Linked DNA regions of Homo sapiens: region 2 is linked to region 1. The links come from fine-mapping of genetic effects on gene expression. Tissue or cell type: T cells. Region 1 holds a variant in brackets; the other region holds the start of a gene. All regions are shown on one strand. Distances are from middle to middle.

What was found. PIP is the estimated chance that this variant, and not a neighbour inherited with it, causes the effect.
Region 2: HEMK1 starts here. The variant in region 1 is fine-mapped to the expression of HEMK1 in T cells (TOPMed, PIP 0.94).

What each region holds. Positions count from the first base shown.
Region 1 is chr3:50,646,819-50,649,573 of GRCh38, forward strand. It overlaps MAPKAPK3 (MAPK activated protein kinase 3), which reads left to right. Exons shown (of 11, transcript NM_001243925.2): 9 at 1-7; 10 at 305-385; 11 at 1,076-2,473. The coding sequence ends at 1,228. Among named protein-coding and RNA genes, the nearest start is that of LINC02019, 21 kb to the right of the region's middle. RefSeq lists enhancers at 260-759, 2,251-2,755. The variant G/T (reference allele first, on the strand shown) is at 1,441.
Region 2 is chr3:50,568,235-50,570,989 of GRCh38, forward strand. It overlaps HEMK1 (HemK methyltransferase 1, mitochondrial release factors N(5)-glutamine), which reads left to right and starts at 1,288. Exons shown (of 11, transcript NM_016173.5): 1 at 1,288-1,340; 2 at 2,697-2,755. It also overlaps a transcript of C3orf18 not described here. RefSeq lists an enhancer at 1,093-1,212.

The DNA of each region.
Region 1 (2,755 bases):
GATCAACGTGAGCCCCTCCTCCTCCCATGGCAGGCAGGGTGTCCAACAGGAGTGGGGCTGCCGGGCAGGAGGGTGGTGGCTCTGCTTTGAGGCCCCAGTGCAGGGCTGGAATGGGCCCATGCACACAGGTAGATACTAGGGCCTCACCTACAACCTGGCTTTGTCACTGCCCTAGTGAGGCTCCTTCCCCACCCTGAGCCTTGGTTTTTCCATCTGAGTCTGGGAGAAGAGGATGGAGTAGGGGGAACCAGTGCTGTCCCAGGTGCCTCCAGTTTCTAATCCACGGGCGTGGGGCTCCTTCCAGCAATCGATGGTAGTGCCACAGACCCCACTCCACACGGCCCGAGTGCTGCAGGAGGACAAAGACCACTGGGACGAAGTCAAGGTGGGTGGGCTCTGCCTCAGTCTCAATACAGGTGCCAGGATTTGGGCAAAAGGGACTTCAGGGGGGTGGCTACCCAGGGTCTGGGGTCTTTGGCCCCTTTCTATACCTGGAGCACAGGGTGTCAGTGACTGTCGCAGTGGTCCAACCATGGCACTCCAAGGATTGGGCCTCACTACGCCATTCAGTGTGGTGCTCCTGGCTCACTTCCTCAATGAAACGGGGCTTTGGTACCAAGCTTGGATGATGACCTCTCTTATAACCAACAACATTTGGGAGGGTGGTCAGCCTGGTTTAGACCCAGCAGAGGCCACGTTTGAACATATGGAGTAGCAGCTCCAGTGGCACAATCTCCAGGCCCCAGTGCGCTGGTTGCCCAGCGAGATGGCATTCTCTGCAGGTCTTGTGGTTCTGTGGTGGAACTGGTTTAGTTCACTATCCCACTTACCCTTGGTGTGGTCCGAGGGAGTAACTCTCCTTTTGTGCCTTAGTGAATAAGCTCAGTGTCTACCACAGAGGACGGTAGTGAGGATCATGTGATGCAAAGGGCTTGGCCCAGTGCTGGGCACACAGTGGGCACAGAGGCAGCACAGGCTGTCACTGACATTAAGGGGCTGCCCAGGCAGGGGGGTGATGGTTCCTAAGGTCAGTACATCCTGACCTCTTAGTGCCCACCATCCTGTCTGTCCCCAGGAGGAGATGACCAGTGCCTTGGCCACTATGCGGGTAGACTACGACCAGGTGAAGATCAAGGACCTGAAGACCTCTAACAACCGGCTCCTCAACAAGAGGAGAAAAAAGCAGGCAGGCAGCTCCTCTGCCTCACAGGGCTGCAACAACCAGTAGCTCATGGGGCCTTGGAGGAGCCTGGCCTCTCAGCCTGCATAACAGACTGAAATGTGCTCAGGCCCTGGCCAGGAGGGCCCAGGGTCATTCTTTTAACAAAAGGATTATTTTGTTGTGTTTTAATTTGTCACTCGGAACTTCAGGATGGAGGACCCTGACCCTAAACCTCCTTCAGATCTCTGGCCCAGGCTCAAGCCCTAGAGATGGGCAGG[G/T]CCTAGGGGCTGGGAGCTGCCTGCTGCCATAGCAGCACCTTTAGCTAGGTTGGCCCGAGTGAGGCCTCTGTGCTGTCCTGCCCTGGTGCATGGCCTTAGCTTTCTAGGCCACTGGGAGTTGTGGCTGGGCTTCCCATCTTCCACAGAGACATCTCCCTGTGGGATGGGCAGATGGGCCTGGCCTTGAGAAAGGCATTGGCCATTGGTTGCCATGGTGACCAGGGACCACGTTGCTGCCTGTGAATGCTGAGTGAGCGAGTAAGGGAGGAGGGGCGATTGAGGGTTCACCTCTGCCTTGGGGAGGCTGATTTCTCACACACTGGCTGGCCCTCTCATTCTCACTCCTCCTTGGGCCCTGAGGCTGCTGGATCCGGTCTGCCTGCCTCCCTGTGCAGTCCAGCCCTGCCTTGCTGCAGCCCCAGCCCAGATGGCACTCAGCGCTCTCCCCTGAGGGAGTCCCTGGGCCTAGCCATCCCCTCACTATTCCCGACCCAAAGGGTGACTTTTCATCTGAACTTAAGGTGGGAGATATTTTTAACTTTTTTCCACTTTGGAAAATGTCACTGTGACAAAAGCCAGCATACTTTCCCTGCACCCATCTGCTCACCAGATCTCAGGCAGGAAAGCCCCTCTCTGTTGAAGTCAGGGGCTATCTTTTGGTATACTTGTGTGAAAGTGGCTGGTTGGGAGCAGAGCTAAGTGGCTTCCCATTAACCTGAGGTCTCTTTCTTTACTCTGGGTCAGACCTGAGGTTGGGGAAGGCGACTGAGCCATGCTCAGAATGTCTGGTCCTGGCTTGGGCCTGAGTAGGGCAGAGAGGGCCTTTCCTGGCTGATCAGAGCTTACCAGCCCCACCCCACCATGGTAGCCTTAGGGTGCTGAGTGCCTGATACTGCCTGACAAGTGCCTGACACGCAGCCTAGTTCCTTCCTGGCCCCTCTCTCACTGGCTGGGAAACCCTAGACCATGTCAGATAGGACAACACTGCTGGGTTTTACATCCAGATAGTAATAAACACCATTTCATCATTTTCTCTTGGCTCCTGGGTTTACTCTTTGTCTACAGGGGTGGACAAAGGTGGCCCAAGGGCAGCTTCTCAGACCCACTAGTGATTTCACCCCAGCTGGAGGGGGTGCCTCAGGCCTGATAAGCATGCCATGCTAACTCCAAGGCCAGAGTCCTCGCCAGGCCTAGAAAGGTCAGAAGAGCTGAGGGATGGCAGCTGCCACATGCCCCCAGCTCTGTGCTGCCCCTGTGCAGTGTGTGTGACACCTACCCCCGGTCCTGTGTGTGCCAGCATCTGCCCAGAGTGGCC
Region 2 (2,755 bases), 79 kb before region 1:
ACCCCGACCCAGGCAAGTCTACATATACCCTCACAATAGCTTCCATCCACGGCATGATCAGCTCAGGGAAGGAGCCCTCAGATACTCCTGATCCGCCGGTTTTCAAAGTAGTTTATGGGAGTCACCGGGTAGCCTGGTACAAATGCAAACGCCCCTGTGTCTCCCGGTCTGGGAAGGAGGCAGGGAAACAGCATGTTTAATAGCAGTTTAAGGCCGGGCGTGGTGGCTCACTCCTGTAATCCCAGCACTTTGAGAGGCCGAGGCGATGGATCACCTGAAGTCAGGAGTTCGAGACCAGCCTGACCAACATGGTGAAACCCTGTCTCTATTAAAAATACAGAATTAGCCGGTCGTGTTGGCTCACGCCTGTAATCCCAGCTACTTGGGAGGCTGAGGCAGGAGAATGGCTTGAACCCGGAGGCCGAGGTTGCAGTGAGCAGAGATCGCGCCATTGTACTTCAGCCTGCGCAACAAGAGCAAAACTCCGTCTCAAAAAAAAAAAAAAAAAAAAAGAAAAAAAGAAAAAAAAAGTAGTTAACAGTGTTCTAGTTAACAGTACTTTCTGGTGGGGAGATGTTGACAAGACACACTTTGCGAGACGCTGCCGAGTATTTTATAGAAGGCGCAACTGAGGTCCAGAGGTCCCAACACCTGGAGGAGTTGCCAATAGAGTCAAGATTCGAATCGGTAAAAGAGCGGCCCCTGGGGTCTGGCCGCCAGTCGGCCGACCCCCTGGTGGGCTCGGGCCACTGACCTCGGTAGGGTCACGACACTGGGACTGGACCCCAAAGTTGGACCAGCCTTCAACACTGGAACCCGCCCATGCACAGCTCCACCCGGCCCCCAGGCTAAGATAGACCACGCCCCCGGACATCTGGTCCCCGCCGGAACACCCGGGCCCTCTGGTGACACGCCCCCTTTCCGGCAGGCTACTGGGCTCCGCCCACACACCTCCCGGCCTGGTTCCTAAACGCCAGCTCGGAGCAATCCCCTTGGGCTGGAGCCAAATCCCTGCTGTGATTTTAAGGAAGACCGGCAGGTCCGGGCCCCCAAGGGTCAACCCCACACACATCCCCGCACTTTCCTGTATGCAGGCCTGCGAGCGTAGAGGGAGTGGAATTCACAGCCTCCCCACCCATCCGCAGGGGTCTCCTGGGAGGAACCCACCAGCGATAGGAACACTGAAGCTGGGCTACGGCGTCCGCCCGAGCCTTTTCTTAAAGGCGCCGACCCCGGAAGCGGGGCGTCCGAGGGAGCGCGCGACGGGCCACGCACGTCCGGGCGTCCAGTTCGGGGCAGCTTCTCCGGCTGGTGGGTGGGTGGGGCAGCCTTTCAGGCAGGTATGCATGGGAGGTGGGGATCGGAACGGGGTGTTTCGACTGCAACCGCCTGGAGACCTGGCCGGTACCATTCTCCATAGTGCAGATGGGGAAACAGGGTTGGAGAGAGGGGGCCTCATCTGGGTCGTTAACAATGCGGTGCGTAGCTGTGAGGGAGTTTACACTTCTGACTTCGGGCCTTGGCTCCTGGGACGGCGCACTGGTGCAAGAGCCGCTTCTGGAGTCTGGTGGACTCGGGTTCGTGTCTTGCCTGGGACAGTCTTTTTTTTCTTTTTTTTGAGACGGAGTCTCTCTCTGGCACCCAGGCTGGAGTGCAGTGGCATGACCGCGGCTCGCTGCAACTTCCGCCTGCTTGAACTGGGTTCAAGCAGTTCTCCTGCCTCAGCCTCCCAAGTAGCTGGGACTACAGGTGCGCGTCAGTATGCCCGGCCAATTTTTTGTATTTTTAGTAGAGACAGGGTTTCACCATGCTGGCCAGGCTGGTCTCGAACTCCTGACCTCGTGATCCGCCCACCTCGGCCTCCCAGAGTGCTGGGATTACAGGCGTGAGCCACCGTGCCCAGCTTGCCTGGGACAGTTTCTACCTGAGTGACGCTGGGCAAGTCGCTTCCCTTCTCTGACCCTACTTGTATCTGAAGATGTGGCACTTAGCAGGTGCTTAATAAACGCTAGTTTGGACTTTTATCTGGAAGCAAAGGGGACCGCTGATTTTAAACCTTCAGTTAAACTTGCTTGTGACCTCTTTAAATATACAATTGTAAATTTTTTAGTTGGTGGTTTACGCTGATGTCCCGGATTATAGGTTAAATTAGGAGGAAATTTTCAGCATGTACATCCATGACAGTACACACACAATGTCAGATTCAAAGCTCCCAATTAAAGGCAATCATCTGCCTCTTGTAACATCAGTTAAGATCATGTAACATCTGGTCCCTGCTGTGTGTTGAGCTGCCTCCCAGGCCTTGGATATTCATAGACTAATGCATTGCTTGCCATGGGTTTGGTGTGATTTTCCCCCATCTTATGGATTAAGAAAGTGAAAATCAGAAATAATGACTTGCTCAAGATCACACACGCTAGGTTAGACACAGATCTGTCCTGTCCCCACATATGTGCCCTAACCTACCACCAACCCGTTTATTAGCAGAGACTGAGCTATGGGCTCAGCCCACTCCAGCTAAAAATGTGAAGAAAACGTAAGTGGCCAAGACAAGAATGATCAAATAGGTGGGTAAGGCTCTAAATGGAGTCAAGGGGGTGTCAGAGCAAGAGCACAACTATTCTCAGGCAATGTATTGGTAGAAGGGGGGGTGTCATACAAGGCTCACCTGCTTTCCTGGTTCCTCTCACTCCCAGGGTGGCAACCAACTATATCTGAGGACCAGAGCCATTTTGGGGCACCAGAGCTTGTGACC